Linked DNA regions of Homo sapiens. The protein of the gene in region 4 purifies or fractionates together with the protein of the main gene of each other region. This does not show direct contact. Each region holds a gene or a part of one and is shown on either strand. Other genes may lie near its edges.

The links.
Region 1: the proteins of ELAVL2 (region 4) and RBM45 purify together in Homo sapiens (co-immunoprecipitation; 3 studies listed by BioGRID and IntAct, with this or other methods). This does not show direct contact.
Region 2: the proteins of ELAVL2 (region 4) and IGF2BP3 purify together in Homo sapiens (co-immunoprecipitation; 3 studies listed by BioGRID and IntAct, with this or other methods). This does not show direct contact.
Region 3: the proteins of ELAVL2 (region 4) and POLR3H purify together in Homo sapiens (co-immunoprecipitation; 3 studies listed by BioGRID and IntAct, with this or other methods). This does not show direct contact.

What each region holds. Positions count from the first base shown.
Region 1 is NC_000002.12:178,122,052-178,129,691, reverse strand, and holds the end of RBM45 (RNA-binding protein 45), read right to left. Parts: intron 6,171-7,640; coding exon 6,041-6,170; intron 5,865-6,040; coding exon 5,780-5,864; intron 5,566-5,779; coding exon 5,402-5,565; intron 3,709-5,401; coding exon 3,516-3,708; 3' UTR 3,508-3,515; intron 334-3,507; exon of another isoform or gene 296-333; 3' UTR 36-295; downstream 1-35. UniProt on the Homo sapiens protein: RNA-binding protein with binding specificity for poly(C). May play an important role in neural development.
Region 2 is NC_000007.14:23,467,284-23,475,049, reverse strand, and holds the start of IGF2BP3 (insulin-like growth factor 2 mRNA-binding protein 3), read left to right. Parts: upstream 1-4,558; 5' UTR 4,559-4,939; coding exon 4,940-5,114; intron 5,115-5,402; exon of another isoform or gene 5,403-5,474; coding exon of another isoform or gene 5,475-5,814; intron 5,815-6,507; coding exon 6,508-6,568; intron 6,569-7,766. UniProt on the Homo sapiens protein: RNA-binding factor that may recruit target transcripts to cytoplasmic protein-RNA complexes (mRNPs). This transcript 'caging' into mRNPs allows mRNA transport and transient storage.
Region 3 is NC_000022.11:41,534,234-41,541,873, forward strand, and holds part of POLR3H (DNA-directed RNA polymerase III subunit RPC8), read right to left. Parts: intron 6,563-7,640; coding exon 6,466-6,562; intron 1-6,465.
Region 4 is NC_000009.12:23,697,052-23,704,691, reverse strand, and holds part of ELAVL2 (ELAV-like protein 2), read left to right. Parts: intron 1-3,087; coding exon 3,088-3,313; intron 3,314-7,640.

The DNA.
Region 1 (7,640 bases), on a different chromosome or scaffold from region 4:
TTTCCGTTCTTGTCTTTCACATAAATAAGTCATGATTTAGTTAAGCAAAGAAAACTTTATTTCTGCTACACGTAACAACATATTGCTCTAAGGAACAACTACTATATTCGTTTTAGCATTAATGTATGGATTCAAAAATACATGTCAGCAATCCCTGCTTCCCAGACAAAACAATGCTGTACACAGACTATCAGGTATATGGAAAAAAAAAAAGCTGTCAACTGTCCACAGGGAATGCGTCCAGTCACATTTTCAGTCAGTCAGCTGAGGATTATGTCATTATTTAGTCTTTGTTCTGTAGAAAGAACACAACACAAGTATGAAAATCATCACCTGAAAGGAAAGGAAATAGCTGTTGTAGTATTCCTAAAATGTTAGGAATTGTTCCTTTATTTCAATATACCCAATGTTATCTGCTTAATCATAGCTGCCCCCAAATAAAACCAAACTTACTAAGAAGGGCGATGCAGGTGCTGAATTTCTAGAGGGAAAGTGTTGTGAATTAACAAAAAATCTGATGCTCTGAAATACTAAAATTTATATTTTCCTCAAATAGAAAGAGAATTACATTGTGGTTATCAGACCCATCTCAAAATAGAATTCAACTACTTTCAATGTTATATCCTTGGATCAGTTGCTTCTATTTCCTAGGCATGACTCACTTAATCCCAGGCCCATACCTCAGAGATAAAAGAAACCAGCCTTCATGAGCTGTGTTTGCAGCCTTTTAAAAATTAAAGAAACAAACAAAAAAGTGCACCTACCCCAAAAAACTTGTCACAATCATATAAAATTTGGCAAAGTCTTCCACAGTATTTTATCGAAACTTAAAATAAGGTAATATGTTTATTTAATACACCAACAAAGAAGAAGAATCTCATAATGGAGTCCATTGTAAATAGGAGATCCGCAGCAAAAATAAAAAAAGCCATGCTGCAATTAGAAGAAATTCAAAACCGTGTAGCTAATCGTATCCTATCCAAACAGCCATTTTCAACTAACCTGACCCTATTTTATCTCTGCCCTGAATATGCGTAACAGTTCAAAAAAGGGAAAAATGATAGATTAAAATTTTTATGAACAGCCATGCTGAAAATGCAATTCCTCTGATGTAGGAAATTGGATGAGTTTAAGGGAAAAATGTGGTATTTATAAAGCTTAGTTCTCACAGTACCAACTGGCCACAAGGTAGTTTTATATCATTATACTTTTAGTTTCTGATCATTTGGATGTCATTATTTTAGATAAGAGGACATCTCAAAGGTTTCACTGAAGCTACAAATGCAAGAGTTTTAGTTTAGACTTGCAAAGCCTTTTTTTCATTTTACATTTTGTTGACTCATTGTCTCTCAAAAGCCCTATGAGAAAACTGGGCCTCAAAAAGGCAAAGAGGGTCAGTCGCAGTGGTTCATGCCTGTAATCCCAGCACTTTGGGAGGCCGAGGAAGGCAGATGACTTGAGCTTAGGAGTTCAAGGCCAGCCTGGGCAACACGGCAAAACCCTGTCTTACCAAAAAAAATTACCTGGGCATGGTGGCACATGCCTGTAGTCCCAGCTACTTGCAAGGCTGAGCTGTGAGGACTGCTTGAGCCCAGGAGGCAGAGGCTGCAGTAAGCTGAGATCAGGCCACTGCACTCCAGCCTGGGTGACAGACTAAGATTCTGTGTTTAAAAAAAAAAAAAAAAAAAAAAAAAAAAGGGCGTAGAGACCAGCCCAGTCACAGTTAAATGGCTTTTTATTTTAAGCCCAATATTCTCTTTAACATGTAAATAATCATTAGAAAAGGTTCAACCACAAGAATAATTTATATACTTTTCTATACTGAGAAGTCTAAAGTCTATATTATTGTCCTTTTTAAGAACAAAGATTTATTGAGTAAAAGCAAGAACTATTTATTTCCTATTATTGAAATATTCACAGACTAGAAAAAACACATTTTTTGCATGCTAGAGAATAGCTTCTCCAAACAGAATTCATTCTTAACATTTTATCCATAAACAGGAAAAAATGCTTGCTAATTCTTTTCCACTCCCAATTTAATATATCCAGGGTTAAATTGCTAACAATGTATGGTACAATGAGAGTGGTTTTGTCATTTAATAAAACATTTAAAAAGATTTAAAAATTAGGATTATGGGCCCAATGGGCACTTTCTCTTGTCAAATGCCTTCTATGAAGCTATGAAGGAGGAACTAATCATGTGATCTGTTCTAGGAGAGGAAGGGTCATCAGCAGTGAGGCCTGGCAGGAATCATTCTCATACGTGCTAGCTCACACAATTGGTCAGAAAGAAAATCTTAAGTGAAAAAAATAAAGGTTTCAAGCCAGTAACTTCAAACTGAATTCAAAGTGCCTGCCATCTACTACATTTGACCTATAGTAGACTTGGAAAGTTAGTGTGTGGGAACAGGAAAACGGCTTCCCCTGAAATTCAGAATTATTTTACAGAATAAAAACCGCCAAACTTTAGGCCAGGCGCAGTGGCTCATGCCTGTAATCCCAGCACTTTGGGAGGCCGAGGCGGGCGGATCATGAGGTCAGGAGATCGAAACACGGTGAAACCCCGCCTCTACTAAAAATACAAAAAATTAGCCAGGCGTGGTGGTACGCGCCTGTAGTCCCAGCTACTGGGGAAGCTGAGGCAGAAGAATCACTTGTATCCAGGAGGTGGAGGTTGCAGTGAATCGAGATCTCGCCACTGCACTCCAGCCTGGGTGACAGACCGAGACGTCTCGGGGGAAAAAAAAAGTCAAACTTTAAGGAATGTTTCCCCAAACCACACAGATATAAACTCACTGTCACAGTCAAATAAATTGTAGTTTGATTTTTGAAAACTAATAAATAAAATAGGAAATGGAATTCATATGGCTGTATGTATCAAAATTTACAATAAAGAGTTTTTGGTAAATTGTCAGGTTTTCTTAAAAAATACATATATGCATACGAGAATATTTTCTGAATGTATTGTTTTAATGCACAAACTCACAAATACAAGTCCAGAAAACACCAACATTTAGGTTCAAAAGGTCCAAAAATGATATATTATTTGATATTGCTTTTTAGGCATTTCATTAGAGAGAAGTCAAAACATTATCTTTATAAACGACTGTTATAAATTACCTCAATTCATAACTCAAGACACCAATTTTTCAAGTTAAAAATCTTTAGAAGTATTTCAATTTTTTTTTAAAGCAATCCTTATTCTAGCACCGGACAACTTAAAAGTTTATATAAGCACATAATAAAAAGTTGAATTCTTAAAATCGAAGATTTCACAAACAAAAAACAATTATTTATCTTTCTAAATTGAAATGTGATTTTATTTTACAGAAGGGCAAAAACATTCTTCAGTAAATGTCAACAATTTTTAAAGTTTAAATAGTTGCAAAGCTCTTTTAACTGACAACTTCTAAATCACTAAAAAGAAAAGTTTATAAAGTACTTACACATATTCCTCATATACTATTTACTCAATATGTTTTAAAATTCAGATTAAAAAGGGCTTACCTCAAGAATCAGTAAGTTCTTTGCCGTTTGTTAGATTCTTCTCTTGGCGAATCTGCCAGCATAACTTTAAGTCTCACCCCATTCAGAATCTTTCCATGTAGAGTGGCAATGGCATCATTAGCACTTATTCTATCGGCATACTTGGCATACCCCACATTTTTTCCTGACACAAGGTAAACTTCGATCAGGTTACCAAAACGACTGAAACAAAGTGAAAAAAATAATCAACCAAAATTGATAAATACAACTGCTCAGGTCTAAAATTTGGAGTCCATTCTTGACTCCATTTTCACCCTTCTCCCCAGATCCAACATCCAACTCATGTCAATCTTAAACATCTCAGTCAATTCTATTCATTCTCATTCAGATCTCTCTTCTCATTCAGACCATCATCTTTTCCTTAATCTAACTCCTTTTTCACTAGTTTCCTTACCCCTGAGCTTGTCCCTCTTCAATCCATTTTTCACTCTGTCTTCTGAGTGATCTTTCTAAAACATAAATATGATCATTTACTCCCTAAAAGTCCCCTCAGCAGCTCCCCATTGCCTCCATGGTGACAACAAATTCCTTAATATAGCTCTAGAGCCGTTCTGACATTGTCCTTGGACTCTTTAGTTTCATCTTCCTTAACAATCTCTCAAATTCCCTATTTAACAGCCCTTCTTTTACATTCTCTATGGCAGAAATAACCATGCATACCCCCAGCTTTCACCTGTGGAGAAATTATTTTTATACTTCAGGTCTCCACATACACCTTCCTTCTTTCAAGGCTTCTCAGAGTTTCTAAGGTAACTGCTCCTCCTTTGTATCTTACACATTCCTTATCACAGCAACAATCACCCTGGGTTGTAATTTTCTGTTTACTTGTCTGTTTCCTACATGAGATCAGCTCTAAGAGGACAAGAATCATAATGTCTTGTCCATTTAATATTTTGTTTACATGTCTCTTGTACTTAGCACAGTTCCTGCCTTGAACAAAGAGGAGGTTCAAGAAGAAAACTAAATATATCAGTTAAATAAAGGTCAAAATACTTGAACCATATCCTGATATTTTTTTCCTTTTGAGCCTCAATATACTATCACATTATGTCCCTGATATTTTGTGCAGCTCTTTAACAAGCTTCCTGTCTATCAAATTCACTAACATTCTTGTAAGGCAAATGGGAAAAAGGCCTAAAAGAAAAAGCAAAGAAAGGAGTTATGTTAAAAACACAAAAATAAATAAGAACCTTCCCTTTTTTATTATAAAAAACATTTATGTATTTTTCCCTACAATCAAGTAATTGTTTACACAATGCGACTGCATAACCCTTAAGGATCCTACAATGCACCAACAAAACAGAAGATGCTTAGCAAAAAAAACACAAAAAACAAAAAGGGTCTCACTCTGTCACCCAGGCTGGAGTACAGTAGCACAATCTTGGCTCACTGCAACCTCGACCTCCTGGGCAAAAGCAATCCTGCCACCTTAGCCTCCCAAGTATCTGCGACCACAGGCATGTACCACCATGCCTGGCTAATTCTTGTATTTTTTGTAGAGATGGGGTTTTGCCATATTGCCCAGTCTGGTCTTGAACTCCTGAGCTCAAGCGATCCCCTGACCTCGGCCTCCCAAAGTGTTGGGATTACAGGCATGAGCCACTGCACCAGGCCCACTTTATGTTTCAAAAACAAAATAGCAGGAAATTCTCTATGGAGCCTTAGGATGTGTGACTGATAAACAAGAGAAGAAAATAATCAGAAATTGAAAAAGATGATACAAATAAGGAGGTTTTAAAAGCAGAGAACTAATACTCTCTACTTGATAGGTACTGGGTGAAGGAAGTGTCTAGATTATAAGAATAATTAAATTACTAGTGTAAATAAAATATAACAAAAAATGTAACTTTCTTACCAGAATATATCTTCTAATACGTCTAAAGGTAAAGGATGAGGATTAAACACAATAAAAAGTCTTTCTTTCACAGGAGTTTCAGCAGGAGCTTTTTTTTTGCATGATGGAAGTACAACATCTGTCTGGATTTGAGGCAACTGTGATCCAGAGCTTCCTCCAAATTGCTGTTAACAGGTAGAAAACAAGAAAAAGAAAAAAATGCCCTTTAGGGATTTTTGGCCAAGAGCTAAAGACAGATATGTATCATGGCATCTATGTGGTCTTCCACAATAGCTCTGAAAATTTTCATACACAGATAATCAACAAAGCATGATTTCTCTTCACATTTATTTTATATGCTATTGATATATTATAAAGGTTAAATTCTTACCTACTTACCATAAATTGTTGCTGACTTGGGTTATTCCACACCATTGATGCAAGCTGTGCAGCTACCATCTGTGTTGCCATTTTTCTAAGGAGACTGGAAAAAATAACTGATAATTTACAGAAAACTAAAAATATTCAGTCTTTTAACAGTAGCTTGTTTTGTGTGACTTTCTCACCTGAGAGGTCAATTGTTTCTATTTTTATTCTTCAAGTCCTATCAATCATGTACACTCAAAGCTCGGCTTTAGACACTCCTGGAATGGTACTTACTCTGTTGCATTACTTCCATCATCAATGAAGGAAACACCTATTCGGTTCCCAGGAGGGTACTGAAATCCATGTAATTTGTATTTTGCATAAATAGCTGATGCTACATTAAAATACTGAACCACTCCATGACCTAAAATAGAGAACATACAGAAATGAAAAAGGAAAGCAGACTGAGTGCCTAAGGCCTATGTTACAATCTATCACAAAAATGAAACCATGTAGAACTCTAATATCACACAACTAGTAAATACAGAATCGAATGTATCAGAAAACACAGTTCTGTTATCATGTGTGCAACAGGTGTATTCCTAGAAAAGGAAGAAATAATTTAGGGAAAAATATGAACATGATATTTTAGGGAAAATGGAATATTAACATACGTCCTGTCTAATAAGTTTAGTTTTAGGATACTAGCTTTTCTTATATGATACCAATATACTTAAAAGTCTAAATTTTTATTCTTTGAAATCTACTTTGAAATTTTAAGATTTTCCCAACCATACTGGGTAGGAAATGAAATGAGAAGTGATAGTTGAAAAGAATATATACTCATCCCGGCTATCTGCAGCAGTAGGGAGAGGAAAAGTGATTTGAATGAAAAACAAAAAGATAGGGAACAGAGGATCTCAGATCACAAGTGATATATTTTACTTTCCTTTGGAGAGATTTCTGCCAAAGGGACGAATTTCAATTTAGGAGGGTGATGTTGAAGGGAGGGACAATGTTATAATGCATTCCTTAGAGAGCCCAGGAGTTTGTGACACAACTAAAAGGTTTTCACTTTTATAATACAAACCACTGGGGAAACACTTATAATTTATGTTCATCTGGAAACCCAAGCATCCAACATTTTAATGAAATTAAAATAAAACACAGAAATCAAATGACCATATAAAGTTAATTCAAATGAGATTCGAACTATATGATGACACCTCTATTAATAAAAAGATGTTCCAATGACACATATATTTCAGACACATCCAACCAGAGAAACAAAACAGGAGGTACAGGAACAAATACATTTTGACATACCAGATAAAAGGGAGGGAACAAAACAAAATGAACACAACTTCATATGCATATAACAAATGTGCCAGAGAACACAAAAATGTGTGCCTAGAAGTCTTAGAACAGAGAATGACGCATATGATCGGGTTAAGACTGGGGATGGCTCAAAGACAGTTCTACAAAAAGACTAGTGCTGGGTTGGGTACTAGTGAGTATGTGGGGGTGTCTGTATGAAGGGTGGAGTTACCTTAGTCCTGTTGGTCCACATGACCAAACTCACGTCACTACTTCTATGTCAATAGCCATGCCACTCTAAAAGGACTAAATCAGGTATCCTTACAAAACTGGAAGAGATGCCAACCAAGTATGATTTCTCTCTACCACCCCTCACTAACAAAGAAAAAAAAACCCCTTAGATTTACTGAGTGCCCTATTACATGCCAGAACTTGCATTAAGTTATTTTACATATATTATCTCTAATTCTTACCTAACCCTGGCAAAGAAGGTATCAATGATCCCATTTTACATACGAGGAAAGAGAGGCTCAGAGGGGATAAGCAAGTTGCCAAGGTCTCAAAGCTACATGTCACT
Region 2 (7,766 bases), on a different chromosome or scaffold from region 4:
GTTGATTTTACCCGGAATTTTTCGTTTGCTTTTTTTGGAGGGGTTGTTTGATTTTGCTTAAAACAACCCTGTGGACCACAAAGGGGTTTAGGAAGGGAGCGGGCAGGGCGAGTCGATTTCTCTAGAAGCCCAGAAAAGTTCTGGTACCTGAGAACATGGTTGGTTGTAGTTGTTTTAAGTAAAAAAGGACGCATCAACTCTAAGATGTTGGAAATGGGCAGGGAAACGAAGATGTGACTCCAGCTGCTGAGCATGGCGCAAATCCAGAACCTCCGGGCGCTGGACGCTGGGGGAAGGGAAGGGACCGTGCGGGCACCATGCGGTCAGCCAAGGGGCGGGCTCCACCCACGGACGCAGAACTGCTTTCCACCCTTCCTCAGCGTTACCTCCCTCTTTCTTCCTTGGGGGTTGGGGCTGGGGGCGAGCTGTTAAAGGGCAGGAAAAACGAGAGCGAGCAGAGGGGAACACAGTCCCACCCCTCAACCTCAACAAAACCAACGAGGGAGCAAAGGGTTATTTTCGCGCCACAAAAGATGGAAATCCAGGGGCGGCTCCGGGGCCAATGAATGAAAACCAGCAAACCGCTCTGGCGGAGGCGGCCGACGGCGATAGGTTCCCCCCGTCAGCCAATCGGAAGCGAGGAGAGGCCCCCGCCCGCAGCAGGGGCGGTGTCTCTCTCGACGCCGGTTGCTCAACTTGGACTCGGCAAGCCGGCCCCGGGGAGCGCGGGAGCCCCGCCTTGGAGCCGCTTTTGCGCGCCAGTCTCGCGGCCCGCCCCGCAGACCCGCAGGGTTCGGCGAGGGATTCTCCCCCGTGGGTACCAAGCATCCCTGGGCCCTATGGAACCCCTCGTGCACACACGCAACTGAGACCAGAGGTGCGGGAGGGTCGCCAAACACACGCTGCCCGGTGCGTCCCCGCGCTGGCCGGCGGACTCAGGTGGGGTGGCGCGGCGACGGCCCGGCCACACGCTCCGCGCATACGGACGCAGCCCCAGGAGGAGCCAGAAGCCCGCGGTCCCGCGGCAGGGCCCCGGGGAAGGGCGGTCCAGTGGTCCAGGCCCTCCGAGGCGAGCCGGCGGCCGACGAAAGACCCTCCCCACTGTGAGCCGTGAGGATCCCGCCCTCTTTCTCGGGGCAGAGCCAGAGGAAAAAGGAAACAACCCCATCTTCTCTCCCGGGGCACCATTTTTATTTATTTTAAACAATAAAATATAGGCAGGCAGCTTCCAAGGAGGGCAGATCCAGGTTATCACTTATTAACGCCTCTAGTTTAAACAGATCAGAGTCCAGGAGGGCCGTTCAAAAGCGCAAGAGCCTGTTAAAGCACCTCCGAGGAGGCCCAGGCGACACGCCGGGCATTGTGTGCCCACCCGCGTGAGGGGTTTCGGCTTGAGACTCCAGGCTGGTCCCAAGCCGGGCGTGAGGAGGGGTGGCAGCCCCCCATCTGCCCACTCAGCCTTTGCCCCTGACGTGTGGGTACAGCAACGGTAACTGGCCTTCTAAACATAGCTATTCTTTAATATTACACTGACCCACAAGAAACATTTGTACAGTCCTCAGTTCAGCAGATAAGGAGGAGATGCAGCTGTCCAAAGAGTAAACAGACTGCAATTGGAAAGACTCAGCCGCATCCCAGAGCACATAAAATGGTGGGAGTTCTTTCTTCGTGGAGTTCACATTAATTAGGAGCTACAACTGCTTCAGGAAGAAGCTGAAGTAGCCTATAACCAGTTGATTTGTGTGAGAGTCATTAAAAAAAAAAAACTGGAACTTAAATTGATTTTATATTCATTCTTGAAAATTCACCAAAGGTATCTTTGTACTTGAAGTGCTAGTGCAAGACAACTACCTAAGATCTTTTGACTCAACCCTTAAATGCTTGGAAGACTGGAAGTGGAGTGGACTGTATCCACCTCTCTCTTTGATGTCTGAGCTTGTATTACTCATGTATGTTTTTAAGGTCCTAGATGGACTATCCAGTTTGTTACAATAATACACAGATTAGGTTAACAGGAGTCCCAGGAACATATTTCATCAAAACACACACTTGTTTTAAATTCCAGCTGTTAGATTTGTTTGATAGTGCCAGACAAGCATGGACTAGTATTTATGGAAAATAAACAATTTATTCCATGCTTTAGAAGTAGATATTTCCTTAGGTCTCAGTTTTAATAAGAGCAAATACAGTCAACCCAGAAGCCATAGTTGAATTGATTTTGGAAGCAAGCTGAACACACACAATTTGTTTTTATGAAAAATTACTAAAAGTGTTAAATGATCAACAGGTTGTAAAATTTACAGTGGTATTGAGAAGTGCAAATATTACCAAATGAATGAATGTAGAACATTTCTCCAAATGGCTTTTGTTCTACAACAGGTACATTTAAAATAAATCCATAATTTTTGATATTTACATTTTGCATACCACAGAGGCCAAAAGAAAGAATACATTTCTTCTTTAGAACTAAAGTTATTTTTAAAAAAAGAAAAAAATGCTTTTAAAAAGTTCAACCTAACCATAAACTTAAAGAAAAATTTTACCAAAACGTTCTTTCAAGGCTGAGCTCTTAATTCAGTTACAAATACTGTAACAGAAAAACACGTCTGTCCCCCTATTTTATAAAGTAACAACATTTTATTAAATTAAACGTGAATGAAATTATTGTGAAAGTGTGTTTACGTTTAAAATGTTGGATTCGCTTGGCAGGAAAGAAAAACCTGTAAGAAAGAACAGTTGCATTTAAAATGGATGATCTGACACCTTCCGGTTCCTTAACACAAAATTACAAAGTAAGTTCCCTTTAAAAGACAAAATGTAAATACTCTTTATATCATGCAACAATTCCCATGTTTAAGTCTACCATTCATCTTTTAAATGAAAAATACACATTTTAAAATGCTAACAACGGTTTTGACAGAGAAGCAAGGCTGTATCAATTACCGAAGATGTTTCCAGTGTAAATCATAATATTTCCTCTATTCAGGATACCTTTTTTCTACCAGTAAGAGTACCAAGTCATTAAAGATTCTTGTCTATATTTTCATGTTATATAGAATTTCTTTCACTTAAAAAATTAGAATTTTCTATCTTTTCAATAGAATACCTGTTAAAAATATACCTGTTAAAAACACACAAGTATCTGGTGCAAATGAAACCTTTGAGTGGAGTACACAATCTTTAAACGACAGTTGGAGATTCCACTAGAACCCCAGCACTGCCTTCGTTTCCGTATTGCTCGTCTCCAGTTCACATTTTGTTGGCCCACAAGGCTCCACCGGGCCCAAATCCTCCCCCGACAACCACCATTGTACTCATTACATATAGAGAAAATTATGTATGGCTCTCATGGCCAAATCCAGGCAGAAAAGAGGCAGAAAGAGACTCGAACAATTTTTCAAATGCGAATACCACCTAGGGGTAATGCACGACGGTCTTCCAGTTTTAAGTCTCAAGTTCTCCAACTAAAATTACTTAAATAAAAGTACCAGCCTACTCCACTCCTCCCCCTTTAAAAACTACAGGAAGAGAGGGTTTCCCTTTACCGACTTTTCCCACTTTGACTTCTCTCCTCCAGCGGCCCAGGCCCCCGACGACCCCAGCCCCTAGCCAGAAACCTCCGCCCCTGCACTCCCCTCCCCCACCAGTGGCCAAGCCCGCCCCCGGCCTCATTTATCCTGGAGCCTTTTCTGAATCGCGCAACCAATGGCAAACGCGAAGCCGAGAGCCACCGCGAGCGCAGGCGGAGGCGGAGGAGGTGTCGCCCAGACACCCGCCCAGGACGCTGCGGGATCCCATCCCCCACCACTCCGGGGCCGGGCCGCCCCCACTCGCGCGGTGCCCAGGGCCCGAGAAGGGCGCACGGGGTGGGGCGCGTCGCCCGCCTGTCTTGCCCCCACCCCCTGCCCCCCTCACCCACTCCCCCACCCCTCCTCGCAGCATTTCCGTCCATGCCAGCCTTAGAAACGTGCCTGCGGCTTTGCTGGGGTTACACTTCTAATGCCATTAAAGCCACCAGGCGAGTTCGGGATTGTGACTCTGGTTTTGTTGTTAATAACCTATTTTGAAAAATCGAATGATTAAAACTACGGTAACTAGCGCTGAGGAACTGCCTGTTAGTACCTCTGCCCATTTCCTCATTAAAAAAAAAAAAATCAATATTCCAGCCCTCCCTCCCAGGATCCGCCCAGACCAGATAACCCTTTACAAACTCGAGTTGTGACCGTCAGCGCCCCGCTTGGTGCCGGCTGCGGTTCCTTTAGCATTTTCCTTCTTCCTCCTCCCCCTTCTCAGAGTCCCTCTCCCAATCTCGTTTCCCCTCCCCCTCTTCCTCTCGCTCGCTTTTTTCTCCGAAACCCACTCTAATTGAGGCTCTGGGATTCCTCACGTGAGACGTTGATTTGTAGTTTGAACACGTGGCTCATTCAAAAAGCCGGACACTCGGAGCGGATTTTTTCCGCCTCCTGCGCCTTCCTCCCTCCTCCTCCTCCTCCTCTCCCCTCCCTCCTGCCAGTCACCCTTCTGGGTTTTTTATGGGGAGGCGGCGCCTGCCTCACGTAGTGTGATATTTTCACAGTCCGCTGGCCGAAGCCAAAGGGGTTGGGAAGGAAGAGACAAAAAGTAGTTTTTTCCCCTCCTCCTCCTCCTTTCTCTTGCTAATCCCGCCTCCTCCTAAGACTTAGGAAGACTGGTGGATGCGTTTGGGTTGTAGCTAGGCTTTTTCTTTTCTTTCTCTTTTAAAACACATCTAGACAAGGAAAAAACAAGCCTCGGATCTGATTTTTCACTCCTCGTTCTTGTGCTTGGTTCTTACTGTGTTTGTGTATTTTAAAGGCGAGAAGACGAGGGGAACAAAACCAGCTGGATCCATCCATCACCGTGGGTGGTTTTAATTTTTCGTTTTTTCTCGTTATTTTTTTTTAAACAACCACTCTTCACAATGAACAAACTGTATATCGGAAACCTCAGCGAGAACGCCGCCCCCTCGGACCTAGAAAGTATCTTCAAGGACGCCAAGATCCCGGTGTCGGGACCCTTCCTGGTGAAGACTGGCTACGCGTTCGTGGACTGCCCGGACGAGAGCTGGGCCCTCAAGGCCATCGAGGCGCTTTCAGGTGGGCCCGGGCCTGGCCCCACCCGGGCTCTCGCCCCAGCCCTGCACCGCCCGCCCAGGCCCACCGGGTGGCTCCGCGGGCCCCAGGCCCGGCGCGCTGGGGGAGCGGGGGTGAGGCCTGAGCGCCCACACCCACGCGCGTGGGGGCCGGGGCTCTCCTCAGCTCCGGCTCCCACTCCGGCCCGCGGCTCTGCTTCCCCGGCCGGGGTTTGCTGGGTGAGGGCGAACGCGCTGTCAAGAAAGCCCCGGCGCTGGCTAAGGGGGGCGCGGGGCTGGGGGAGGCGCGCTCCCCCGGCGCCCCGCCCGGGCCCAGGCGCGTGCTCCAGGCCCCGGCACGCTGGGCCTCGGGGGCCGAGCTAGAATGCCCGCCTGTGCCTCGTTCCTTCCTGCTTTCCTCGGTCGTTATTTACGGCGCTGTCTGTGCTGCGCCCCGAAACCCCCGGCCGTGGAGAACGGAAAGTGGCCTCGACCGTGCTGCCGAGTGAGACCGCGAGGCTGGTGCCTCGCACAGGCGGCCCCGCGCTTCCTCCCCACCCTGTGGGAGGAGAGAGTGTGTGCCCGGTTTCCCCGTTCCACCTCCCCTGGTCCGACGAGCGATAGGGGCAGGTGGGCGGGGGCGGCTGGTCGCCTGGAAGGGAGTCGCCGCCACGCACCGGCCGCCCGCCGCTCTCCGGGCCCTGGCGCGGGGCTGCGGCCTCCGGGTATGGCTCCGCCAGGGCGAGGGACGGTGCCGGGCGGAGCAGGACGCCCAGGGGGAAGGCTGCGTTGGGGTCCCCATGGGAGCCCCGTGCCTTTCGGCTTCCCTTTTAATCAATTCAGACGTGGTGCGGGCGCCTCGCCGTCCTTCGCGCCTGGTTCAGCCTGTGCCGAGCTGCGCCTCTGCCAGTTCTCCCGTTCGTGGTCTCCCCTGCCGTCCCCGACCCTTTCTCGCCACTCCCTGTCTTCCTCAAGCCCACCGCTGAGTGTTCCCGGCGGGTCTGGGCTGAAGCAGAGGGCAGGGCCAGGGCGCCCCCTCCTGAAGAAAGCCAGGGGAGCCCCCTGCCCCGAGTCTGCCCTGTGGAGCGTGTCCAGGGCGGTGAGAGGGTGGGCCGCGTCCCTCTTGCGGGCCTCGTGGTGTTGGTGGCCCCCAGGGGTGGGTGGGGGAGGCTTGGAGACTGGACTGATACCCAAGTAGTGGGCCCGCCAGCGGACCCTGCTCCCCAACCATCTGCGAGTTAAATGCCCACGCCGCTCGAGGGGGTCGGCTTCTCCCTCCGCCTGGAGCCGCGTCCGGGCCTCGGGGGCCCTTCGAGGGCCTCAGGAGGCCATTTGTGTCGCCGCTTGGGCTGTGCGGGTCTTCGGGCAGGGAGAGCCGCTGAACTCGGCCGACCGTCTCACTTCTTGTGTGTCCGCAGGTAAAATAGAACTGCACGGGAAACCCATAGAAGTTGAGCACTCGGTCCCAAAAAGGCAAAGGTGAGCTGCTGCTTCTGTTTGCCCCGATTCTGTTCTCACTCCGTTATTGGGTGGAGAGACTCAGCTGAGAACTTCTTGTCCTCTGGTGCTTACCCCCTGCCGTGTGGCGTGGTGTTCCGGTCTTTAATCCTTGCTTTTAAGTTTATGGCGGGGGTGTGTGTGTTGATGATGCTGGGCAGGAATTGAAAGCTTTTCTGTGGCCTCTGCCGCGGGATTATGGTTATTGGTTACAAAATCTCTCGAAAGCTCACAGCTGAATGTCCTCGGTCCGAGCGGGTCAAATTGCTCCTACGGGAAATGGGTCCCAACAAGCAGTTTGGGGGGTTTGCAGGGCTTGGGAAGCAGCGGATGATTCCCCCACCCCTCCAGGAGCAGGAGAGGCGAAAGCAGCTGCGGACACGCGGGGGTCCCTCCTTTCCTTCTCTGTCCGGGGTTGGGAGGCCGTGGGCGCGGCCGAGTGGAGAGGAATTTGCCTCTGCCCTGTGAGCTCGCCAGGGGTATTGGAACGCGTGCGTAAACGCTGGGGCCTCTCTGGCCCAGAAGTGCCTTTGAGTCACTCCGAAGTTCTACAGGTTCCTGCAGTCAGCACCTTTGTCTCCCCGCTTTCCACCCCACTCCTCCTGGGTACATTTTTGCTTACAACCACCAAAAGATGAAGACAGGAAGATTCGTACTACTTAAGGACGGGGATTTCTCGTCTCCGAGATCATGTGTGTAGTATGTCGCTTTACAGAATGTTTATAGACTGTTTTAGCCTCTGAAGCATTTTGGAGACATGGCTCTTTCCCTTTTTCTTTTTCTTATGAAGCCTTATGGAGCAGTGGAGACTCCTTTCCTTTCGCTAGAGCAGGCCGGATTCCGGCTCTATTTTTTTGTTTTGTTTTGTTTTTTAAAACCTTCAGCCAACTCACACCATAGATTCCGGCTCTAACTGCAATTGGAAAGGCACTGCTCCCTCCCAGTCGCACCGGGGTGGGCCTCTAAGCCTTTCTGGATTTTGCATGGTGGGGTTAGGGTTTCTGCCTGCCCCTCTCCCATCCCCCCAACTCCCAACCTGAGCCAAATAATAAGCTGAAAGTTAATTTAAATCAGGGCTGCGTGTATCTGGTTAGATATTGGTGAGAGAGTGTGTGCTGGAGAGCAGGAGGGTTTGCTATGCATTTCTCTGGTGCTGTGCAGAAATAGATGGCTACAAAAC
Region 3 (7,640 bases), on a different chromosome or scaffold from region 4:
CCAGGGAGCCCCAGGCTGGAACAACCACATCCAAAAGCAAATGCTGGGCACCCGGAGTCCCCCATGGATGGATGAGTAAACAAAACATGCTGGAGACACACAATGGAATATTATGCAGCCTTACAAAGGAAGGAATTCTGACATGCACTACAGTGTGGCTCAACCTCGGGCTGAACCTTCACATGGGGCCAAGTGAAAGCAGCCAGACACAAAAGCCACACAGTGTGCGACTCCATTCATGTACAGTGTCCAGAACCACATCCATAGAGACAGAAAGCAGTTAAGTGGCTGCCAGAGGCTGGGTGAAGGACAGGATTAGCAGTGACTGCTACTGGGCGGGGTTTCTTTGTAGGGTGATAAAAACGCTGTGGAATGGCCCCGCGCACGGTGGCTCAAGTCTGTAATCCCAGCACTTTGGGAGGTCGAGGCGGGCGGATCACCTGAGGTCAGCAGTTCAAGACCATCCTGGCCGACATAGTGAAACCCCGTCTCTACTAAAAAAATACAAAAATTAGCCAGGCGTGGTATTGGGTGCCTATAATCCCAGCTACTTGGGAGGCTGAGGCATGAGAATTGCTTGAAACCAGGAGGCAGAGGTTACAGTGAGCTGAGACTGCGCCATTGCACTCCAGCCTGGGCAACAAGAGTGAAACTCTGTCAAAAAAAAAAAAAAAAAAAAATTGTGGAATTAGATAGTGGTGATGGCTTAGCTGATGAGGGTGTTGTTCCTGGTGGGAGGGGGCCCTCTCCTGCCCTGCTCATATCTGCCTACTTACCATAACCCCTGGAGGCCTGTGGTGCCAGTCACTGTATTCCTCCATTCCTATAGTTCCTCCAAACTGGAACTTGCATCTAGAATTTTTAACAGATTCAACTCCTAGCGTTTAGCAACAGAACTGCCTCATAATCGGTGTTGAGTTCTTCCACCAGGAACTATATAATGCTTGTTTGTCTCTCTTTGGGGGAAGCTAAAAAGTTAATGATCATTGATGAGATCTGTCTTCATAAGGAGTTGCAAAATGGTGATAATGTAATTAAAAAAAAAAGATAGTGGTGATGGTTGCACAACTCTTAATATACAAAGCCACTAAATTGTATGCTTTGAAAGGGTGAATTTTGTGGTATGTGAATTATATCTCAGTGAAAAAACAGAAGGACACAGAGCAACAGGCTGGTCAGCCAGGAGAGTGCTGGATCTGCAGTTCATCTCACAAGAGCCCCACCTGGAGGTCTAGGGATGTGTAGCCTGCAGAGGGGATGCCTGGAAAGTCAGAAAGGATGAGTCTAAAGGACCATCAAGAAGAGGAAGGAAGCTGGGCGCAGTGGCTCACGCCTGTAATCCCAGAACTTTGGGAGGCCGAGGCGGGCGGATCACTTGAAGCCAGGAGTTTGAGACCAGCCTGGCCAACATGGCAAAACCCAGTCTCTACTAAAAATACAAAAATTATTAGCTGAGCAGGCCGGGCGCTGTGGCTCACGCCTGTAATCCCAGCACTTTGGGAGGCCAAGGCAGGATGATCCCCTGAGGTCGGGAGTTCAGGACAAGCCTGATCAACATGGAGAAACCCCATCTCTACTAAAAATACAAAATTAGCCGAGCATGGTGGTGCATGCCTGTAATCCCAGCTACTCGGGAGGCTGAGGCAGAATTGCTTGAACCCGGGAGGCAGAGGTTGCAGTGAGCCGAGACTGCACCACTGCACTGCAGCGTGGGCGACAGAGTAAAACTCTTGCATTTTTTAGAGACAGGGTTTTAGCATGTTGCCCAGGCTGGTCTCGAACTCCTGACCTCGTGATCCGCCCGCCTCAGACTCCCAAAGTGCTGGGACTACAGGCATGAGCCACCATATCTGCCCCGTGAAAAAGTTCTGGAGGTGGGCCGGGCGCGGTGGCTCACGCCTGTAATCCCAGCACTTTGGGAGCCCAAGGCGGGCGGATCACGAGGTCAGGAGATCGAGACCATCCTGGCTAACATGATGAAACCCCGTCTCAACTAAAGATACAAAAAAAAATTAGCCGGGCGTGGTGGCGGGCACCTGTAGTCCCAGCTACTCGGGAGGCTGAGGCAGGAGAATGGCGTGAACCCGGGCGGCGGAGCTTGCAGTGAGCCGAGATCACGCCACTGCACTCCAGCCTGGGCGACAGAGCGAGACTCCATCTTAAAAAAAATGAAAGTTCTGGAGGTGGATGGCGGTGAAGGTTGCATAAGAATATGAATGTGCCTAATGCCACTGACTTACACACTTAAAATGTTTAAATTGGTAAATTTCATGTTATGTATATTTTACCACAATAGAAAAAAATGAAATAAATGATAAACATGTCAAAAAAGGTTTAAAAAAAAAAAAAAGGCCAGGCGCAGTGGCTCATGCCTATAATCCCAGCACTTTGGGAGGCCAAGGCGGGCGGATCGCCTGAGGTCAGGAGTTCAAGACTATTCTGGCCAACATGGCAAAACCCCATTTCTACTAAAAATACAAAAATTAGCCAGGCGTGGTGGTGGGCACCTGTAATCTCAGCTACTCGGGAAGCTGAGACAGGAGAATGGCTTCAACCCGGGAGGCAGAGAGGTTGCAGTGAGCCAAGATGGTGCCACTGCACTCCAGCCTGGGTGACAGAGAAGACTCTGTCTCAAAAAAAAAAAAAAAAAAAGGCTTTAAAAAAAAAAAGGTGGGGGGTGTCTCTGCACCAACTCTAGCTGAGGAGGCTGCCCGATTTGCAAATCAATATAACATTTAAAAATGTTAAAAAATAAATAACTAAAGGTGGTCACAAAGGAGCGCTGCTCTAGACTGAGAGCAGGGCCCCCGATCAGTATGGGGCAGGCGGGGGCAGGGTACAGCAGGTCCCAGGCTTGGAGGATGTGGGGAACACGGGCTGGCACCAAATGTCGAGGGATAAACTTGGCCAGTGGGGGTCAGGGTCCCATGCCACAAAGGCCATCATCTGTGAGCACTCCCCACGTGCGGGGCGCTAGACCACAGCTTCACTCAGACTTGCTCGTTGACTCCTCACAGATATTTGATGAAGGAGGAAGGCTCTATTACTGTTATTATACTGTGTGCACAGATAGGGAAACCGAGTTTCAGAGAGGTCAAGCAACTGCTCCCAAGGCCCAGGCAAATAAATATTCCTCTGAGCAAAGGTGAAGGCACAGCATGACCTGGTGCTGAGCCCTTCAGCACTGGCTCAGTGACAGCCCTGAGTGAGGCTGTGGGGTTGCAGGAGAGGGAGCAGTGGGAACAGGGCCTGGGGTCAGGCATCAGCCTCAAAGCATGGCAATTGGTTCCCACCACAAAATCACAGTTCACCCTGCATGGTGCTCAACAGGACTTTTATAGCTGCAGGGTTAACCCCATTGTACAGAGGAGGAAACCAAGGCCGAGAGAAGCAGAGGTACCCGCCCAAGGTCCCCATCCAGGAGACCAGAGCCAGAATTAATTCAAATCTAGGTCCTTGTGATCACTCCATGCCTCCCACCTGGTTCCCAAGAAAACAGAGACTCAGGACAGATGAGGGTGGGGGCTAATAAAAGCCAGCAGTAGAAATCTTCCAATTGAATAGACAGAATTTCCTCCAACTTTTTTTTTTTGAGACGGGGTCTCTCTCTGTCACCCAGCTGGAGTGCAGCGGCGTGTTCTTGGCCTCCTGGGTTCAAGCGATTCTCCTGCCTCCACCTCCACCTCCCAGGGAGCTGAGATTACAGGTGTGTACACCACCAGACCTGGCTAATTTTTTTTTTTTTTTTTTGAGATACAGTCTCACCCTGTCGCCTAGGGTGGAGTGCAGTGGCACAATCTCAGCTCACTGCAACCTCTGCCTCCTGGGTTCAAGCGATTCTCCTGCCTCAGCCTCCGGAGTAGCTGGGATTACAGACATGTGCCACCACACCCAAATAATTTTTTTTTTTTTTTTTTTGAGACGGAGTTTCACTCTGTTGCCCAGGCTGGAGTGCAGTGGTGCGATCTCGGTTCACTGCAAGCTCCGCCTCCTGGGTTCACTCCATTCTCCTGCCTCAGCCTCCTGAGTAGCTGGGACTACAGGTGCCTGCCGCCACACCTGGCTAATGTTTTGTATTTTTAGTAGAGACAGGGTTTCACCGTGTTAGCCAGGAGATCTCCTGACCTCATGATCTGCCCGCCTCGGCCTCCCAAAGTGCTGGGATTACAGAAGTGAGCCATCGTGCCTGGCTTTTTTTGTAGTTTTAGTAGAGATGAGGTTTTGCCATGTTGGCCAGGCTGGTCTAGAACTCCTGACCTCAGGTGATGCACCCGCCTTTACCTCCCAAAGTTCTGGGATTACAAGCGTGAGCCACCACACCCGGCCGCAACTTGACTTTTTTCTCCAAGTTTTTCTGGAAGTTCTAGTACCTATTACCACTTGTCTCCTGGACAACCAAGGCCCCTGTCCAAATGCGGAGACTGGGCTCAGCTCGGCATCCTTCTCTGTAAACAGAGGCCCTCGTGGTTGTTTTCACACTGCAATCTTATTTCTCTGCTAATGAAAATGCTCCTAGTCTGTACAAAGACAGCCTGTTTCTTCGGCCTCTCGGCGTACCATGGTAACATCCATGCGAACTAATTAATTCCCTGAATGGCTGGACACAGACACTAGGCAGTCTCACAGCATACTCTGGAATGTTCTGGCATCTCTGTGCTGAGAGGCTGACCAGTATGGACTACAGCAGGGCTTATCCAACATGAGCTCGTGTGACAACCACCTGGTACCTTGTTAAAACAGTCTTTGGGGCTGGGGGCAGTGGCTCACGCCTGTAATCCCAGCACTTTGGGAGGCCGAGGTGGGCGGATCACGAGGTCAGGCGTTCGAGACCATTCTGACCAACATGGTGAAACCCCCTCTACTAAAAATACAAAAATTAGCCAGGCGTGGTGGCACGTGCCTATAATCCCAGCTACTCGGGAGGCTGAGGCAGGAGAATTGCTTGATGCTGGGAGGTGGAGGTTGCAGTGAGCCAAGATCACACTTCTGCACTCCAACCTGGGCAACAGAGCAAGACTCTGTCTTAAAAAAAAAAAAAAGTATTTGGACCCATCCCCCAAGATTCTGACTCAGGCGGAGGGAGGCCTGGGGCAGGCTGAGAATTGCGCTCTGAGTGCCCAAGGGATGGCAGGCTTGGCGCCTGCGCTCTGGGAGCCTGAACCGTCTCAATGGGCCTCTCACCATCTCCTATACACTGGTTTGGTCCAGACATGAGAATGAAGAATGCCCCTCTCCTGGGGCTCATCACCTCCCTTGACTGGTGGTCCTGGCTCCTCTCAGGGTGGTCCTCTCTCTACTCCTCCCTCCTTCCAGGATCTGGTGATCACCTTCCATTCCTGGATGCACACCCTTTTGCAATGTGACTGCAGTTTCTCCCACCCAGAGGTGAAGTCTATTTCTCCATCCCCTCACCCTAGCCAACGGGATGGAAGCAGAGGCTTGAGAAGTACTTACGCACTGAACTTTGGAACCTTAAAACCGCCAAGCCCAGCCTGGCCTACTGAAAGATGAGACCATGTGGGGCAGAGATGGGCCAGCCCAGCCCAGGCCCCCAGTAACCAACCAGTCTGCCAACCTTCAGAATGTGAGACCGTCCTAGATTGTCCAGCCCCAGGCCAGCCAGATGAGAGGAAAACCACCCAACTGACCGACAGAATAGGGAGAAACAATCCACGCTGATAAGTCACTGAGTGCTCGTTAGGTGCCAAGGCTCTGTCCTAAGAGCTTTCATGTATTAACTCCTTAATCCTCACAATGGTCTTAGAATATAAAATCTATCCTAAACTGCAGTTGACATCCTGAACTGCAACTGACAGATAAGGAAGCAGAGGCACAGAGCAATGACATATTCAGCCAGGACACACAGCTAGTAAGAAGCAGAGCTCAGCTTTTAATCTTGAGGCCACACTCTTACCTACTGTGTCCTACTATCCAAGTCCCCCACCCCCAGCCAGCCTGCTGATCCCCCTTCCGTCTGCTCTCCACAGGCAGCGGGAAGCCCGAGGAATGGACAAGGTGCAGGGCTCAGTAGCAATGAGACCAAAAGGGCACAGACACAGAGCTATGAAGTCAGAGCTGAAGAGGCCTTGAAAACCAACTAGTCCACATCCCAGGCCTCACAGATGAGGGAACAGAGGCCCAGAGAAGAGAAGTCTGCCGCTGTCACCGGGTCAATTCCTGGCCGATTCAGGATGAGGCCCCACGTCTCCCAGCCTCCAGGACTCCCACCACCCTCTGGCCATCTCTTTGACTTTAGCCTTTTAAAATTTTTTCATATTTTATTTATGTATTTAAAGACAGGGTCTTGCTATGTTGCCCAGGCTGGCCTTGAACTCTGTGGCTCAAGAGATCCTTCCGCCCTCAGCCTTACAGGCACGCACCACTGAACCTGGATTTGGCTTGACCTTTGGCTACAGAAAACTGAGCCCCAAGAAGCCCAATGCCCCAGGGACAGAAGATACCCACCTTTGGTGTGTGATGCGCCATCCCCAGGGAATACATAGGCATCCTCCAGTTTGGTGATATCAAACAGACAAATGCAGAGTCCCACGTTGTACACGACCTGCATGCATACAAACACAGACACACAAGTACACATGGATACAGAGTGACCACAGGCCCAGCTCCCAGGCAATCTGAGCCCCTCACAACCACAAGCAAGCCATGATTATCTCCTTTTTTAGGTGAAAATGAGTTTGTGGAGGGGACCAGGGTAAGGAACCTCAGAAGGATGCAGAGCTCTGGAAGGAGCAGGGCCTCGGGTGACAAAACAGGTCCAGGTTCCAAGGCCAGCTCCACCACCCACTGTGTGACTGCCAAGAGGGTCACTTCACCTCTCTGAGCCTCGGTCTCCCCATCTGCAAATGTGAAATACCAGGCTGCAGAGTTATAAAATAAAGAGAGATAACAGATGTGAAGCCCCTAGCCTTGTACCTGGCTCGTGTATTGGAAACCATCATCATCAAGGATCTTTGTTATTACTAGTGAGGACCAGTGACAGGAATGCTGCCTAAACGTGCACTCTCCGACATCCCAAAGCCAATGCCAGAGCTCACAGTTTAGTGAGCGTCACAGCCACAGCTAAACCCCACTGTGCTCACAACATCTCAGACACACAGACGCAGCCACAGGGACTGCAGCTGGCAGAGGGACACAAGACCTAGGCCCCAAGAATGTGCAGAAATCCCATGCCCTCACCCCACACCACTGTGGTTCAAACGACTGGCTACTCAGTGTCTCCTTATCTGCCACCGTGTCATCACCCCCACTTAGAACCCTTGCAAGAACTGTCCAAGAATTAGCAAGAAGCTCAGAGAACTCAGAGTCGTGGCCAGACCTCACCAAGATAATGCCACAAGATCTGTGCCCTTTGTCAGACCATGGATTTCTGTGTGGGCCCCCTCTCAAACGATTCATCTAATCAAATACTAGAAGACTTGTCCCAACAGGACCTCTACCCCAAAGGGACTATATTCCCTTCTTGGACTTTCCACACCTTCTCTCTCAAGGTCCACACCTCCATCCCCCAACAGACCCTCATCTTCAACCTCACAAAGTAACCAGAAGCCATCCACTTAAAGACTCCATGAGTTCCCTTCACTATCTAGCAACCCCCAAATCAACCTCACCTCTTCTGAAGG
Region 4 (7,640 bases):
TGAAGCCTGTTTCATGGCTTGTAATAAATTTATAGATGCTATAATCTTCATTTCCAAGCCACTGTGTGATAAAAGCCCCCATCCTGCTTATAGAGTACTAATAAACAACCTTTCTTTTGTCAAAAAGCGAAGTTTAATGCAGCGGTATGCAGCTAGTTCTCCAAGGGAGGATTACACTACATCCACACTGGTAATTGCTGTTCAGGCTGTTTTCCAGGTTCATGCTGTGCTGTATGGGCATATGTAAGAGTTTGAAATTTTGAATGTTAAAAATTTATTTTATTCCTAATATCACTGTTAGCCCAACTGAAATGGGAAGACTAAAATGTTCATTAAAACTCTTGAATGTAAGGGAGTTGTTCTGCCAAATCTTAGTTAACAAAGCTATAGCAATATAGATTTGATTATGAATTTTAAAAATAAAATACAGATACAATTTTCTATTATAAAAGCAATACTTGGCCAGGCACAGTGGCTCATGCCTATAATCCAAGCACTTTGGGAGGCCAAGGAGGGCGGATCACCTGAGGCTGGGAGTTCAAGACCAGCGTGACCAACATAGAGAAGCCCCATCTCTACTAAAAATACAAAATTAGCTGGGTGTGATGGCGCATGCCTGTAATCCCAGGTACTCAGGAGGCTGAGGCAGGAGAATCACTTGAACCCCAGAGGCGGAGGTCACGGTGAGCTGAGATCATGCCATTGCACTCCAGCCTGGGCAATGGGCAACAAGAGCAAAACTCCATTTCAAAAAATAAGTAAAAAATAAAATGAAAGCAATACTTGTTCTTTAGGAAACAGTTAAAAAATAGAGAAACATTGTGAGGAGGAAATATTAGCTGTAGTACCATAGACTGAAGCAGCCACATGAAGATTTGTGAGGTTGTTTTTGTTTGTTTTTTTAAGGTAGCTTTTCTCCTCACTGTTTGTTTCTCTCCCCGCCACCCGTATAATAATAATACCTTGGAGGCATGTTGTATATTACAATGTCTAATTCTTTTAAAGCAGTGACTTCAGAAGAAAATTGAGCCAGATTTTTCATTCATCAAGTGAAGATCCATTTAGTTGATCTGAATCTAATCAGAGGAGCCCATATTACCTGCCTCTGTGTTGTTAATTGGCTTCATAGGAAGCACCACCTTTAGAGTTCTGAGTAGAGAGAGCTAGCACTACATGCATGCCTGGGAGAATAGCCTACAGATTTTGCTGTCATGAGACTATTTAGTCAAGTGAGAGTATATAAAATACAGCCTCCTTAATTGTGTTAGTTAATTCATAATACTTATACATTGCCACCCTGTGTTGTTATCACATAGACTAATAATGGTGTTAAATAGAAATCCAGGCCTAGAAATAAAGATGAATTTGTTCAAAGCAACAAAAATATTTTTTATTTCATTTGTGCTTTCTAATTCATTCATTCTGAGATCTTGTGAATTGAGAGTAGGTTTCACCTATGACACAAAGTGCGTCTCATCTTTTACCTGCTAGTCCATCACAGGTGGACCTAGCTTGTTTTAGTCAGCGGTTCTCAAGTATGTCCCGCACCTGCAGTATCAGCAGTCTTCTGGAACCCTGCTAAAAATGCAAATTATTGGGCTTCATTCAGAACCTACTGAATAAATCTCTGAGGGTGAGCCACAGGTTGTTCTTAGGTATGCTTAAGTAGGAGGACCACCGATTTAGGTGACTCTAGCTGTGTAGAGGCTGTTTTTTTTTTTTTTTTTTTTTTTTTTTTTTGCTAATCTGATGCTTTTCTAATGGAACAGCTAAATTCTAGAGGTTATTAATTCTTAATAGGCGCTAGTAGATAAGTGAAAGGATTTGCTATCATTTCACTATTTATTCTTCATACTTAAGGCTTTCAAAGTGAACTTACTCAATTTACCTGAAATGAAAAATGAAACCCTGCAATTTTCTTATTCAGCCATCAGGTGGTAATAATGTGCAATGCATGCTCTTTAAATAGAAAAGGTAAAGTGATAGGGGCTGTCTTAGATACGCATATGTGGAAAAAATGCTTTGTCTACATTAGAAAATTCTTAGTCATTGACCTTACACAGTATTAATTTTAAAGCAAGTAGACCTTCTTTCTTTTTTTTTTTTTAAGCTCCTCCAAGTATGATGGTCCAGTGCTCATTTACTTGCCAAAAAAAATTTCCCTGCCACTGCTTATCTCATGATGACCAGCTGTGGTCACCCCACTAGCCTGTTCACGCTAATTAAATGGAATAAGCTGGGTTTCCCTCTACAATTTTTCATAACCTGGAAAGGTTCTTGGCTATCCTTTCCCATTTGTGTCTTTCACACTGGGGAGAATGTGGGGCAGGGAGTGATCTTCTGTAGTCAGGAGTGATGCTGCTGAGGTCAGAAAGCTTTGATGCTTTACTTCTAGAAATTTATTTATTTTTAAAATCTACGTCTTTTCTTTTTCTCCATATAATATTTTTCTGTAATAAAATATAGCTAGTCAGAAGCACAAGAGAGCTTCAGAGAACTGGAAGAGCATTTTCAGGCATTTTTTTCCTAAAGGACCTATATCCTATGCAATATTATTAAGCTGAATATATTATTTAAAATTTCAACCGAAATGTCTTTCTACCACAGTGTATGTATTTTTAGCATAGCTTTGTAGCATTTTTAGCAAATTCTTCTTTCTGTTCTCCTTGTTTCAAGGACAGGAACTACTGTGTCCCTCATTTCTGAGCTGCTTATCCAATAGCACAAATTGAAAAATGGAACTCCGGTACACTATTGACATTAAAAGAGTGTACGGGAGGGAGGTGGGAGAGAGAGAAAACATGGACATGCTTGTGTTTTCTTGTCTTAGCTGATTGGAATGCATGTGATAATGGGTACTCAGATTATGTAAGTGACACGAATTTTTCTAAAAATGCAAAATTGTGATTCTAAACTGAATGGCTAGTAAGTAAAGGGGAAAGTTTCCTCCTGGTGTGATTTTGTGGGAAATGTTATATGTAGGTGAAAACATGTTCTTGAGAAGGAAAAATTAATGTGTCCTTTCTTCTCTCCTTCCCTTCTCCTTCTGTTCCCTCTTTTCCAAATCTTTACTCAAATCTACCATAGGCATATCAAGGGGTGTAGGGTTTATTCGATTTGACAAGCGAATTGAGGCAGAAGAAGCTATCAAAGGCCTAAATGGCCAGAAACCTCCCGGTGCCACGGAGCCAATCACTGTAAAGTTTGCTAATAACCCAAGCCAAAAAACCAATCAGGCCATCCTTTCCCAGCTGTACCAGTCTCCAAACAGAAGGTATCCAGGACCGCTAGCTCAGCAGGCACAGCGTTTTAGGTAAGTCTGGTTTGGTTCTTGTGCCCAGCTACTAAACTGAAAGAGAATACTCAGGTTTACTGTCCAGTACTTTTATTGACAGGATCTCTGGTTTGCTTTTGTCAGTGTTGTTGGTTTTATTACTATTAATTTTTCATCTCCATGGGCACAGAGAGAATCTACTTGAGGAATAGTGTCTTTTGCTAATATTGAAGGTGGGGACCAAAGGACAGTAACCTACAGCAGTGATTCTTAACCAAGGGTGATTTTTGCCTCCCAGGGAACATTTGGCAATGTCTAGAGGTATTCATGTTGGCACAACCTGTGGGGGTGCTACTAGCATGTAATGCTAGAGGTCGGGGATGCTGCTAAGCTCCTACAGTGTACAGCATAGCCCCAGCAACCAGAAGTTACCTGGTCCAAAGCACCAATAATGCTGTGGTTGAGAAATTCTAATCTGTAGCTTTCTGGGGTTATCTGAATTGTTTCCAGGGCTTCAGATTTCCTTTTTTTTTTTTCTTAAAGGATTTTATTCTCATGTGTCAATTTTTAGGTCAAGCTGTTTCTGTTACTTCACTTTATAGTATGTGCACCATTAAGGGTATATAACCTATGTGACTACGTGAAGTTTCTACAAATGAGTTCCTCTCTTCCTTTTCAAAATTGTTTACAAACAGGTTGGCAGACTTTCTCTGTACAGTACCAGATAGTAAATATTTAACTTTATGGGTTATGGTCACTGTTGCATCTGTCTTGTTTTTGTTTTTAAACAACCTGTTAAAAATGTAAAAGCCATTCTTAGCTTATAGCCCATACAGCAACAGGTGGGAGGCAGTCTCCATTTGGCCTGTCGGTTGTAATTTACTGACCTCTCTGTAGTTCATAGAATGACCGTGGCTTTAGCCCAAAGAAGACACTCTATCTCACTGACAGGTGTACATATGCTAACTGTTTAAGTTTTATTCTGATCCTGGGATAACAAACCAGGAGTCATTCAAAAAATCTCTAATCTGCATGTGAGAAGAACAGTGACTTTAAGAAGTTAAGCAGAGCAGAGAGTTTTTGGTTTCATAAGCAAGTCATGCAGTTTTTATTTTCCAGGACATTTTTAAATATCCTTTTTGGCCATATGGTACACTATACCCAGAATGCTATCTAACCCCACACTGATTTTTAAAAATTATTTCCAAGTGCATATCAATTTTATTTATTTCATTCATGGGACAGAATAGTTAATTACCAAAAATATAATCACAAATATAACCTAATAAGATCAGGAGTTATGTTTTCTAGCTTAAATCTATGCATTTATTTTTTTCATTGGAATATTTGCAGTGCTGAAGAGAGTGGAGATAAAATCAGTTAAAAATAGCTCCTTTTAAAAAAATACTAAATTATGTTGCTTGAGATATGAGAAGGAAATTTGTTATGAATGCCACATTAAATTTCAACTTAAGTTGGCCTTTGCCGTGGGAGAAGAGGTGGTACTGTCAAAAGCATTGAGCCTTGTACTTCATGCTCTGCTGTGAGGAAAAGGCATTGGTATTAAAAAAAAAAAAAAAAAAAAAAAAAAAAAAAAAAAAAAAACCTTTGCCACCTTTGACTTCCCATGGTAGTGGTGATCAGACTAGTGTGGGAGATGCGTGGGGCTGCCTGATGCTTGCCTTTGTGGAGAAAGAAGTCTCACAAAGAAAGCCCTTTTTCAGCTCTGCACATAGGTTTCCTCTGTGACATCTTAAGTGAATAATATATGTATAAATATACTTTTTTAAATTGCAAACGTAGGATGAACAAGCCTGAAGGAATTTTACAGGTATTTCCTAGGCAGCTTGTCCAGTTAATTTCAGAGCTCTTTGGGGCCTTGAAAATGATCTCGAGTTTAGATAGAACAAAGTTCTTCATAATGTATTGGTTGATTTTTAACATTGTGAAGTTATAAAATGTTTGCTGTTAGTGGAAAGCTATATTAGCTACTTTTTTTTTCCAGATTGAAGCAATGATTTTGTTTGATAGTTATTAAGTAAAACAAAGTTCTTGGAATCAAGATTGAATTCTTAGGAAGATTGAGAAGACAGGATTTGGGAGAGTGCCTGATTATTGAAATGGCAAGGCTTGTAGGTGACTCAGGTGCTAGGTTGTTGATGGGTGTCAGCCCTTAGGTTTACCTAGCCTCCATCCCTGCAGGCTCTGTGCTTTTTATTTTTGGTTGAGTAAAGCTTTACAGGATGTTCTTATGGTCAAATTTAATTATCTTTTTCTGGCCCATTCTGTGTTTTTATCTTTTAGTACCATATGTTATCATTAACTTGAAAATTCTTTTTCCTTCACTCCTATAGAAAGACATTTTGGAAGAAGAGAATAAGAGATTGTCAGTTGTAAGGGAAACTTGGTTTCAGAAAATGGGAGAAATTGTTATTCTCTCTTCAGATTTTTAACTGTTGTCCCATTCACCCCATTTCTCATTCCTCCCATGATCCCTGTCCAGATAATAAAATATGAACGAGTTAGTGTGCTCAGAGATAGTGTTTGATCTAGATTGGGTGTGTTGGAAGAAATCAGATTTCAGGTTTAACCTGATGTTTGATGCTTTTCTTTAATACAGTATATTGAACCTGGTTGTCATTATCTTGATTTCCGCCCCACTCCCCCTTCTTCTTTCACCTGATAAAGAAACTTGAATTAAGGGCTTGCTTGTTTTGTTGGTATTTTGCTGTTTTCTGTAGTTCGAGTCTAAATCATCACACAGATATATTTTGTCCCTGATATTTGTGTTTTAATGCTCTTGCCTTGAGTTTTTGTCACCTTTCAGCAGACATGTAGAAAATTTCTCACTGTATTTTTATGTTCTCATAGTACCTTGGGAGTTGAGAGAGATTGAGCAATATAAGTTATATGTATTATGGTCAAGAATACTTTTAATAATCATAAAGTATGAGCCATATCTTTTATGGTCAAAAAGCTTAAAAATCCATGTAATAAGGGTTAAGTTTAAAGGTGGGTTTGTGAGGTTTATGGCTTAGTCAATCTATGAATAATCAGAGAATTGTTGTAATATGAGCACTGCTGGTCTAATACGCTTATTTAATTGACTGCAGTTTTCAAAATAGGACAAGCCTTATTTATTTGGATGGATGGTGTAATTCAAGCCCCTTAAGTATATTCTTGGGACATGATATCAGAATTAAACTTTAAGCCAAATTTTTTCATGTTCTTTTCTGTGAAACAGCTATAATTTTATTGAATATGATCTAGTGTAATGACCTGTGTGCCTGCTTCTATGAGCCTTTATGCATTTTTTAAAAAGCCTTTTAAATGAGCACTTGAGTTGCCTTTAAGGCATGACGTACTGGTTGCATTATCACAATTTCCTTTTGGAAGAAACCGGTATCAATCCCCTTGAATACTTTTCCTCTTTCTTAGAGGACAGATGATACCATCTAATTGAATAAGGCAGTAAGGCAGTAAGAAGATGATCTTGTTGTAGATAATTTCCAAGCAGTTCTCGGTTGGCGCTTTGGAGAGATTTTGATAATCATTATTTGTGGGATTCCGAGTATATTTTCTTACCCATCAATAACTTATCTTCCTATTTTTATTTCTGACTTTAATCGGGTTCACATTTCCCCTTACTTACATGTAGGCCTTCCCATAGTCCATCAGCTAATTTTTTTAGAAATTAGGCAGGTACTTTATTTTTATTTTCTACTTATGAACACCTAGCTTTAAAATAGGAATGATCTGATACATGGTTCTGTTCAAAATTTTGACAGGTTATAATTGGAGCTTTGGTCCTGTTGATAGAAAAATGTTTATACACATCTCTCTCCTATGTGCCTTTTTCATAAATTACATATGTACATGGGCGTGTGCTATTCATTAAATTATAAACTCTAATCAAACATAAAAAAGGATAAAGATGAGACAATCTGTATTAAATGTCTTGCTAATTACTATACTGGTTGGCTTCATTTTCCATGTACCTAATATCTTAATAAATGTCTTTTAAAGCAAGACCATAAAATAATTTCAGATATCTCATCTGACTTCATGTGATGCATGTTGGATTATCTTGTGTCTAACCTTATAATGTAGCTTGTACTAAGAGTAGGAGAAATAATCGGCTCTCCCTTTCCTTATTTACTTGTATTTCCCTTACTGGTACCATTCTTTACTCTGATTTACATTTGTAGTAATCTTTTTTTAAGTTACTTTTTCTTTAAATGGAGGTCATTTTAATTAAAGCAGGTTATCCAGTCTAATCCTCCATATCTGCTTGCTGTGTTATTTGTAAAATGGATTTTGTTCAGGCTAAAGAGCAGGAGAGAGTGCCACTCGCCGCCTCTCCCCT